Homo sapiens: one gene and its partners. The protein of the gene in region 2 purifies or fractionates together with the protein of the main gene of each other region. This does not show direct contact. Each region holds a gene or a part of one and is shown on either strand. Other genes may lie near its edges.

Region 1 (3,500 bases), on a different chromosome or scaffold from region 2:
GAAATGTAAAAATGAAGGTAAATATAAAAGACCTTTTTTTGCTAGGCATGGTGGCTCACGCCTATAATCTCAGTACCTTGGGAAGCTGAGGGGGGCAGATCACCTGAACTCAGGAGTTCAAGACCAGCCTGGCCAACATGGCGAAACCCTGTCTCTACTAAAAATACAAAAATTAGCCAGGCATGCTGACATGCACCTGTAATCTCAGCTGCTAGGGAGGCTGAGGCAGAAGAATCATTTGAACCCGGGAGGCAGAGGTTGCAGTGAGCTGAGATTGCGCCACTGCACTCCAGCCTAGGTGACAGAGCAAGACTCCATCTCAAAAAAAAAAAAAGACATTTTTAAATTTTTAATCTCTTTAAAAGATAATTGACTGTTTAAGGCAAAAATATATACACTGTAGGTTTTTAAACATATGTAGAAGTAAAATGTATGACAAAAATAGCACAAAAGATGGGAGAAAGAAATGGAAATATACTCTTGTGTGATTCTTACACTACATGTTAAGGGTATGATTCATTTAAAGGTAGGCTGTAAGAAGTTAAAGATGCATATTGTAAAACCTACAGCAACCACTAAATAAATTAAAATAAAAACAAAAGTGTATACTAATAAGCTAACAGTGACGAAAAAAGGAAATCATAAAAACAACACACCCAATGGCCAGGCATGGTGGCTCACACCTGTAATTTCAGCACTTTGAGAGGCCAAGACAGGCAGATCACCTGAGGTCATGAGTTCGAGACTAGCCTGGCCAACATGGTGAAAAACCGTCTCTACTAAAAATACAAAAATTAGCCACATGTGATGGTGCGGGCCTGTAATTCTAGCTACTCAGAAGGCTGAGGCAGGAGAATCGCTTGAACCCAGGAGGCGGAGGTTGCAGTGAGCCAAGATTGTGCCATTGCTCTCCAGCCTGGGTGGCAAGAGCAAAAACTCTGTCTCAAAAACAACAACAAAAAAATCTTTTCTTCAGCCTCTTGGGAACTTTCACTCACTGATCCCTCTCCTTAGCTCTGTCCCTCCATGACTTTATACTTCCCTTCCTATTCAGCCTAGTATCTACTGTATATCATTTCAACCAATCCTGCCAAGATCCTAAACTCCCTTGCACAATCATTCTGCCCAACTTAACCTGGCCAAGTAACAACTCTAGACAAATCCAAGTACTTGGCTCTGTGAGCCTACAACAGGCCTGAATCATATCGATTCAGTATTACCAAACTAATCAGCCCTCAACACTGCTGAACAACTTTATCATTCTCCTCAGTTAGCAAATCTTTCCTATTTTCTGCAATTATGAGAGCCTTCCCCTCAAACCTCTCCCATTCTAGTAGCCCTTGCCCTCTGAACTTAGACATATTCTAGTCTATTTAAAAATAAAAAAGACTTACTTCCTTTAGCCCCAAGTCCCTATCTATAGATCAACCCCCTCTTTCTTCTCATCCTTCTTGCATTTCTTATTGAAATTGAACCCAGACTGGGGACTGTGCCATTTTTCCCATTTGTTACTACTGTTCTCTTACACCAATGTCTTTTTTGACTGCTAAACTTCATTCTGTAAAGGCAAAATAGAAATTTTTTTCCAAAAGGAAAAGTCTATATGCCTTCTGTACAAACTTGTGAAATTAGACTAAATGGGGAATCATCACGAGTCCTTAAGTAAAGGGCAATAGATAAAATTTCCAAAACATTAATTTTTTTAACAACTTTTTTTTTTTTTTTTTTGAGACGGAGTTTCACTCTTGTTGCCCAGGCTCGAGTGCAATGGCACAATCTTGGCTCACTGCAACCTCTGCCTCCTGGGTTCAAGGGATTCTCCTGCCTCAGCCTCCTGAGTAGCTGGGATTTCAGGCACCCACCACCACGCCCGGCTAATTGTTTTGTATTTTTAGTACAGACAGGGTTTCACTACGTTGGCCAAGCTGGTGTCAAACTCCTGACCTCAGGTGATCCACCCACCTCGGCCTCCCAAAGTGCTAGGATTACAGGAGTGAGCCACCACGTCTGGCCCTATTTATATGCAAAATATATAGGCATTTTTGCCAGAATAGGCAAATATAGACATACAAAAAGTAGATTAGTAGTTGCTTAGGGACAGGGAGTGTTGGGGTCTGGGAAGCAATAGATAAAAAGTTGTGGTGGGCCGGGCACAGTGGCTCACATCTGTAATCTAAGCACTTTGAGAGCTCGAGGTAGAAGAATCACTTGAGGCCAGGAGTTTGAGACCAGCCTAGTTAACATAGCTACATCCTATCTCTACTAAAAAAAAAAAAAAAAATTTATTTATAATAAATAAAAATAAAAAGTTGTGGTGATGGTGACACACAACTCTGTGAATATACTAAAATCACTTAATTGTATACTTTAAATGAGTGAATTATATGATGCTGTGTGCTTACATCTTAAAAAGCTGTTATAAAATAAAAACAAAATAAGTGCCTCTTTGAGTGTCTCTGTGTATGATATGATCCAATCCTCAAGATTGTTAAATGAAAAGGAAGTGGTAGGACATTCCATGCATGGAGTATGCAACAATTTGTATAAAAGAATAAAAACAAGGCTGGCCATGGTGACTCACAGCTGTAATTCCAACACTTTGGGAGGCCAAAGTGGAAGGATCACTTGAGCTCAGGAGTTTGAGCCTGGCCAACATGGCGAAACCCTATCTCTACAAAATATCAAAAATTTGGCTGGCATGGTGGTGTGTGCCTATCATCCCAGCTACTTGGGAGGCTGAGGTCGGGGGGATGGTTTAAGCCCAGGAGGTGGAGATTGCAGTGAACTAAGATCCTGCCACAGTGTACTCCAGGCCTAGATGACTCAAAAAAAAAAAAATAAAGAATAAAAACAATGTAGCATGTTACCACTGGTGTAAACAGACCACAGACCACACATACATATGTTTGTACCTACATAAATACAAACAACTAATTGCTCTCTTTCCGTTTTTTTACCTTGTCATCTAGCACTTTTTCCAAATTCTCACCTTAACTGCAAAAATAGAACAGAGATTGAAATTACTAAAGGCAACTTACAAGCAAAGCGGAGTGGACGACTGGAGGGTTGGGATGGTCCATAAATAAAATAAGGCCAGGCAGACATCCCTGATCCTGGACGATGGCTCTTCTGTTTAACGGATCTGCTGCTAGATCCCGTAACTGGTTAACTACCGATAGAGCGTCAGGCTCTTCACTCATGGTGGAAGTGGAAGAATTCATCTTCTATGCCATGCACATGAATAAAATCTTAAATTCTGTAGAAAAGGTTTGCAGAATTAGTTCTAGGCTGCTGAGGTATATTATAGCACTTGTGAAATAACCAGGATTACAACACCTTTAGAAAGAATCAGGTAACTAAAACTAAATCACATAAAAACTTAGAAATCGGCAACTCTACAGTTTGAGAAAAGTAAAATGAACGTAAGACGACTGAAAAAATTTGTGTGCACAATGTTTAAAGAACATATGTTGTCCTCAATATTCCAATAAATTATGTTT
Region 2 (3,732 bases):
ATCACCTAGGCTAGAGTGCAGTGGCACGGTCACTGTTCACTGCAACTTCTGCCTCCCGGACTCAAGTGATCCTCCCACTTCAGCCTCCCAGGTAGCTGGGACTACAGGTGCATGCCACCATGCCCAGCTAATTTTTGTATTTTTTGTCGAGATGGGGTTTTGCCATGTTGCCCAGTCTGGTCTCAAACTCCTGGACTTAAGTGATCCACCCACCTCAGCCTCCCAAATTGCTGGGATTACAGGTGTGAGCTACCACACCCAGCTTCAGCTATCTTTTTTATTAACTTTATTGAATTGTAAACAGAGAACACTTTAATTCTAAACAACTCTCTCAAGAGAGTAAGTCTAGGCCAGGCGCGGTGGCTCACATCTATAATCCCAGCACTTTGGGAGGCTGAGGCTGATGGCTCACCTGAGGTCAGGAGTTCGAGACCAGCCTGGCCAACATGGTGAAACCTCGTCTCTACTAAAAATACAAAAGTAGCCGCAAGTGGTGGCACATGCCTGTAGTCCCAGCTACTCAGGTGGCTGAGATGAGACAGGAGAATTGCTCGAACCCAGGAGGTGGTAGCTGCAGTGAGCCAAGATCGCGCCACTGCACTCCAGCCAGGGTGAGACAAAGAGAGACTCTCTCAAAAAAAAAGAGAGTAAGTCTAAAGACTTACTCTTTTCCAACATTTTAGATGTCATTTTTTAAGCTTCATACATTAAACATTATTACTGCTTTATATGGCAACATTTACCCTGGATTCATATTTGCCAATTTATTTATTCCCTATTCCTTCTTGCTTTCCTTCTAGGATAATGCTTATTCCTAAAGTACATGCTTTTAAAATTCCATTGGTAAATAACCTCTCTCAGATTTGGTTCATCTGAAAATATTTTCACTTTGCCCTTATTCTTTAAGGAAGGTTTTGATGATAGTTACTTGATACTGGCTGTAACTGTTGCTATTCAAAGACCTGCTACTTGCTGTTCTTCTGAAGGTACTGTGTTTTCTCCCTGCTTACCTCTCTGTATTTGGTATTTTCTACCTGTAGCTTATTCTGTTTGTTATACATTATAAATTTCCTGTCATGATGGGCTGACCACCAATTCTAAATCAATTTCAGTTACCATCTCTTCAGATTATTGCAATTCCTCCATTCTTTCCTACTGGGATTGCAATGGGCATGTTTGACTTTCTCAGTGTCTTCAACATCTCAAGCTCTCATATGTTCCATCCCCTTGCTCCTCTGTGTGAAATTCTGTTATTTCTTCAGATTCATCTTTCATTAACTCTTTTATAGCTGTTGTTTAACATTGTTTTTCAAATCTTTCTGGTTATTTTTGATAGCCTTTTGTTGCTCGCTATTATAATTCCATTTTAAAAAATATCTTTGAACATTTTATATCTAATTATTTTACATTTGTATCTAGAAATTCTAATGCTGATTTCCTTAGGGATCTAATTTTTATTGTCTCTGCTTTGGTGTAGTTTAATTATGTGTTCTTTGCTTGTTCAATTGACAGCAATCCCAAAGACGTAACTAAACTGGAGTGCTTTTTCCAGAGAGGATCTGTTTATTTCTCCTGAGACAATGACAACACCCACCTCTGTGTATATTTTACTGCTTTTAAGGGTTCCCGTTCAATCCTGATCTCTGACTCAGATCTCCCACTAGAGCACTGATATGGCCATCTGCCCTCAGGGCAACCCAGCTTAGAGTGTTTAAAATTCTCTATAAGCACAACAGTACATTAATCAGAAGGGCCCATTAGAGGATCTAGTTTTCCCTACTTCTAAAAGTGGAAGTTCAAACCTGTGTTTCAATTTTACATACACTCTTATATAATGTACCCTCCCTTAGAGTGCAAAGTATCAGTACTATCCTTTATCATCAGTTTAGGAGTTATATGTAGTATTACTACCTTAACATTAAAAACAATAACATTAAACTGCCTGTAATTAATTATAAAAGCTTAGAGTATTCAGTTAAGGTAAACGATACCTAAAATGTTCTCCACAAAGCTAAAGGGAACAAGATTATTTCTTAGTTTATTAAAAGGAAAAAAGAAAGTGTGATTCGAAACCCAAGGAACTGAAAAATAAGGTCAGATGCCTCAAATATGAGGAAACTGCCAGAGAATAAGCTGGATCCCTGCACTGACACCAAGGGAGTAACTGGCTAAACCACAGGCAGCTGTGACACAGCTGTGACGGCCCAGTCCCCGAAGGGACCAGAGAGTGCTGTGAAGGAGCTAAGTGCTAGCTTCAGGGAAAGCCCAGCCAAGCCAGGCTGTGGTCACTCCCGAACACTAAGGCTAGCCCTGGCAACAGCTCTGTGGGAGGGTCAATTGTCAACAGTCACAGTGAACAGGGGCACCCATATTACTGTGCTCCATGCCTGTGGTGGGACAGCCTGATGGCAGGATTGCCAACTATTACATCCTCCTGCAGGCATATTCCCATAGGTAATAGGAAAGTGAATGCTTTCTTGAATTTTGGACTAAGTCCTGTCATTTCACTTTACAGTTAAATTGTCTAGATCCAGACACCTAAACAGCATAAAATCAGGGATGAAAACAGAGGCATTCAGACCTGAGAGACTTGTGTCAGAAAGGTCAAGCCTAGAGAAGCTGCTAAGTGAAAACGGAAGCTGAAGAAAACAGGAGGTGGAGGAGGATGTGGGCTCCCAGGAGGAGAGGTGAGCCTAGGAGGTGTTGCCCTAAGGCAGAGCCAGGCTTTGCTTCTCAGATGCCACACAGCACTTGGCCCCACTGAAGGGCCTGTCAGCTTCTGTGGGGCAGGTATCCCAAGGACAAGGACCCAGCAGGGTTGTTATTGTGTCTCCACAGCCCTGCAAAGGGCTTAGCTCAGATTAGAGGTGCAGTGGGGACCTTTCAAACCAAGACAGAACCAGCAGCCTTGCCACCAAGGTACACAGAGGTATGACTAATAAGTCTATCAATGTTCCCCTGTAAATGCAATCTATCCTCAAAACAGAGTTACCAAATGAATTAGGGCTCTAAATATGAACCCGGGAAAACTTAATAACCAAACAGTAGGCAGTAATTAGGTGATAAGATCCAGGCATACGCTGCTTAAAAAGAAGCCCCATTCAAACATTAGAATGGACACTGCAGGTGGCTCTTGTCAGGAATGACCTGCATGAACTGGGCTCACCTTTTCATTATAGTTGATGGCAATCACATCCCCGGTGGTCAGACAGGCAAAGTTCCTAAGTGCGTTTTCTAATCTGCAGACACATTCTGTCAAGGCAACATGGCAAGATGGATACCTTAATCTGAAACAAGTTTCCATGTTAGATGATTACTGGTAGGTAGAGACTGTACCATGATGGTACTTGAAACACGAAGCTTTTAATACAATAAAGTACTACTTGGCAATAAAGAAGGATGGAACTCCTAATATGCAATAATATGGATGAAATGCCAAGCTGGGGTAACAAATGCCAAGCTGGGGGAAGGGGAAATAACCAACCACAAAAGGGCAGTGAGATTCCATCCACATGGAACCCTGAGAAAGACAGATCTATGAGGATGGGAGGTAGCTGAGAGGTTTCTGGGCCAGGGGATCAGGTGGGGACTGACAGGAAAGGACCTTTTGGGGACATGGAAATGTTCTGATTACATGGGTGTATACATTTTCAAACTGGCTGAACTGTGTGCATTTTATTGTATACAAATTATACCATGGGATTTTAAAAAATCCTGTGGGAGTACTAAAGA
Region 3 (3,732 bases), on a different chromosome or scaffold from region 2:
AGGGCCAGAAATTTCCCAACACATTATTTAAGTAGCTAATACATAATGCATATATATATATATACACACACACACACATATATATACACACACATATACACACATATATACATACACATATATATGTGTATATATATACAAACACATACATATATGTAGTCATTGTATATATTTCTAAGTAAATGTTTTTTATACATTTCGAAAAAGGACCAGAGGTAAAGAACCACTTTTACCACTAGGGTGAGTTTTTTGTTGGGATCATAATTATTTTTGGCCAGGTGCAGTGGTTCACGCCTGTAATCCCAGCACCTTGGGATGCCAAGGTGGGAGGATCACGAGGTCAGGAGTTCGAGACCAGCCTGGGCAAATGGTGAAACCCCGTCTCTACTAAAGATACAAAAATTAGCTGGGTGTGGTGGCGCATGCCCATAATCCCAGCTACTCGAGAGGCTGAAGCAGGAGAATTGCTTGAACCCAGGAGACAGAGGTTGCAGTGAGCTGAGATTGTGTCACTACTCTCCAGCCTGGGCAACAGAGCGAAGGAATTTTTAGTCCCAAGGAGTTCTAGTGTCACAGGAGTCTGGGACTCTGAGGGATGCTCTTCAGCATCCCAGCTCAGCTCCTCCAGGAAGTCAGCAAAATGGTACTTTACACCTGTATTAAAGCCAGTGCAGCCACATGACACATATTTGTTTGTTTTCTTTTATTTTCTTTTGAGACGGAGTCTCTGTCACCCAGGCTGGAGTGCAGTGGTACGATCTCAGCTCACTGCAACCTCCGCCTCCCAGGTTCAAGCAATTCTCTGCCTCAGCCTCTTGAGTAGCAGGGATTACAGGCACCCGCCACCACGCCTGGCTAATTTTTGTATTTTTAGTAGAGATGGGGTTTCACCATCTTGGCCAGGCTGGTCTTGAACTCCTGACCTCGTGATCCACCCACCTCGGCCTCCCAAAGTGCTGAAATTACAGGCGTGAGCCACCGTGCCTGGCCATGTTTTGTTTTTTGAACAGATCCAAAGAACTTTACATCAAAAGGATTTTCATTCCATTCACCAAGCCTGTTTTCTTTTTCTCTCCAGCTTCACGAGAAGTTTGACCTTCTAAAGCGGACACACCAAGAAGAAAAGAAGAAAGTGGAAGACAAGAAGAAGGAGCTTGAGGAGGAGGTGAACAACTTCCAGAAGAAGAAAGCAGCGGCTCAGTTACTACAGTCCCAGGCCCAGCAATCTGGGGCCCAGCAAACCAAGAAAGACAAGGATAAGAAAAAGTAAGCAGGTGTCACCCCCCTGTATCGGGGACCTCTAACAATTTATTCCTCTTGCATGTCTCTACTTTTCCCATTTACAGACTGGAAACTGGTCCTTTACCAGAAAGATAAAAGCAAGTATTTTCTCTACAGTGCAGGGAAGATGATGAAGGTTTTTAAATTTTTTTAAAAGGTACACAAAGATTAATTTATAAAACTTTACCACAATTGACCAAGCAATCAGGCCTGGAGGAACCTGTTGTCTCCAGTAGCATCTTCCACACCAACACTAGGAGTCTCAAAGAAGACAGGTTGATGTCTCTTCAGCACCCTCTGAAGACAATTCTCATGACTCTTGATAGAGAGCATCCTAAAATCACAATTGTTAAAATTATTTTCCTATTCTGTGTTGTAAGACTTCGTAAGCCAGTCACTGAAATTCTCGTTCCCAAAATGAAACATTTGGAAGAGCTGCTAGTGGCCACTAGTTTCCTCAAAATTCAATATGATGAATTGTTTTATTGTGAAATGGGATCCAAATGCCTATCCAGTTGACACCTCTGCCAACCTCAAGCCAAACCTAAACCCATTCATAAAAGGTTTTTTTTAAATAGGGTCTTAATGTCATGTGCCAAAGGGTCAGATTCTGCTCTTGAGTTGGTCACTTCCTGTGATACTCCAGTAGCAGCTGCCTGAAACCAGTGGGAGATTTAGGCCTCCCTTGACATTCTCCTGTGATTTGAAGCTCTCCTTTGAATCATCATAAAGCCTAGTTTTATGTCAATGCTATCGGTTTTGACAGGAAGCACGATGGTAAGAATACCACTAACGAAAACCTTTGTGGTGTCTCAATGACAAATATGCAGATGCCACCCTCCTTTGTCTAATGTACGGTGCTTTAGGGCAGCTATTTAATATAAAGCAACTCAGAACTTGTTTCAGGAAGTGTTGCTCTTTCGCCTTACATGCCAAGGTTCTAGGGAAAAAGCTGACCATATGTAAAAACATTGATGCTCAAGCACATAAAGAATTACATTCTTTAAACATAGAGTACATAGGATCAAGTCTCTGCACAATAATTGAGATGTGTTATAGGGAAAAGTGAGCACAGTGCTATTGTCCACTTAGTCTTGGTGAATGTGCAGTAGGCTCACCCCTAAGGAATCTCATGTTGCCTGCAGTAAAAATAAAAATGGACTGCTACAATGACATACTGAGAGAGTTTTAAATCATGCTTTACAAACTGACATTCTGAGCTCTGAGACAGCAGAAAATGTATCACCAGAGCAAGGGAGGAGGCAAATGTTCTGAACAATAATTGAAATGGTTGTGATTTTATTTGGAGTTGGCACAGATCCAAGTGACCAAAGGAGTTCAAGGCCCAAAATTTAGTTATGCTGGATTAATTCTGAGAGTAACAAGCACATAGATTATAATCTAAGAAAACCCTTTGTAGCTATGCATGTCGGGAGAGCATCTAACACTAATGGTGATGTTTCCCATGCAGAGACTCAGATTACAGTGACTCTTCCAGTGAAGACAGATGAAAGCCATTGGGCATTGTACCTTTGTTAATCCAAGCTAAACTAACCAAGGATATAGGGGTGTGTATGTGTCTGTGTGTGTGTGTTTGTGTGTGTGTACACATACATCTATAGGTATGAATGAGACAAAAAGCTGCTGACTTACAGCTTAGGAAATGCAAAGTCAAGTTTTTCTTTTCACCCTGAGGCACTCAGTGCATAAAGGTTCAAGTTTTAAAACTAAGAATGTTTCCAAAAGACCAGCAATGTTAAAAGAGTATTTCGTGTATACTAGACGTGCCTTTAAGCAATAAAAATTCCAAGAGCTGATCATTATTGTGCTTCCATTTTAGAAAAGTTTATTTAGTAACAAACTTCCCAGTGTAGGGAGGTTTTTCCTTGCCCTTTTGAACATGTTAGGTTATTTTCTTCCTATCCTGGGGCCTTACCAATGTGTAATGCTTTCAAAGTTTCTATGAAGCCTGTGTGGATTCTATTTTAGCTTATTTATATATTCTCATTTATTTTGAAGGATATTATACTTAATTTGGTTCAGAGTAGTCGCCAGGTTTTGCACCTGACAATGGCACATATTTTTTGTATAACTTTTTCTAGGTCCTTACCCTTTTCCACACTTTACATTTGTACAGTGAAAGCAACTGCCAGTGGAGGCCTGAAATGTCCAAGAAAAAAAAAAATCACACCTCTTACTGCCAGTGGTAGTGGAGTGTTTTGGTTAGAGGGACCGCAGAAAGACAGTGGCCAGGCTAGACAGAGCAGCACTTTGAAAAGAGCTGGGAAGATGCCTCCTAGCATAGCTGGAACAGATGTGGGAGTTGCCATTCAGGAACTGACTTTGTTATAGGTAGAAAATGAAAAGGCAGATGCTTACTTATTTACCTGCTATGCTTCCACCTCCAAGCCTAACTTAGTTTTTCTAATAGTTTTAAATTCTCTTTTTTCT

Evidence for each region.
Region 1: the proteins of UFD1 (region 2) and ARMC1 fractionate together in Homo sapiens (co-fractionation; one large-scale study listed by BioGRID). This does not show direct contact.
Region 3: the proteins of UFD1 (region 2) and SEPTIN11 fractionate together in Homo sapiens (co-fractionation; one large-scale study listed by BioGRID). This does not show direct contact.

What each region holds. Positions count from the first base shown.
Region 1 is NC_000008.11:65,624,178-65,627,677, forward strand, and holds part of ARMC1 (armadillo repeat-containing protein 1), read right to left. Parts: intron 3,257-3,500; 5' UTR 3,222-3,256; coding exon 3,039-3,221; intron 1-3,038.
Region 2 is NC_000022.11:19,462,036-19,465,767, forward strand, and holds part of UFD1 (ubiquitin recognition factor in ER-associated degradation protein 1), read right to left. Parts: intron 3,240-3,732; coding exon 3,167-3,239; intron 1-3,166. UniProt on the Homo sapiens protein: Essential component of the ubiquitin-dependent proteolytic pathway which degrades ubiquitin fusion proteins.
Region 3 is NC_000004.12:77,029,705-77,033,436, forward strand, and holds part of SEPTIN11 (septin-11), read left to right. Parts: intron 1-1,078; coding exon 1,079-1,266; intron 1,267-3,732. UniProt on the Homo sapiens protein: Filament-forming cytoskeletal GTPase. May play a role in cytokinesis. May play a role in the cytoarchitecture of neurons, including dendritic arborization and dendritic spines, and in GABAergic synaptic connectivity.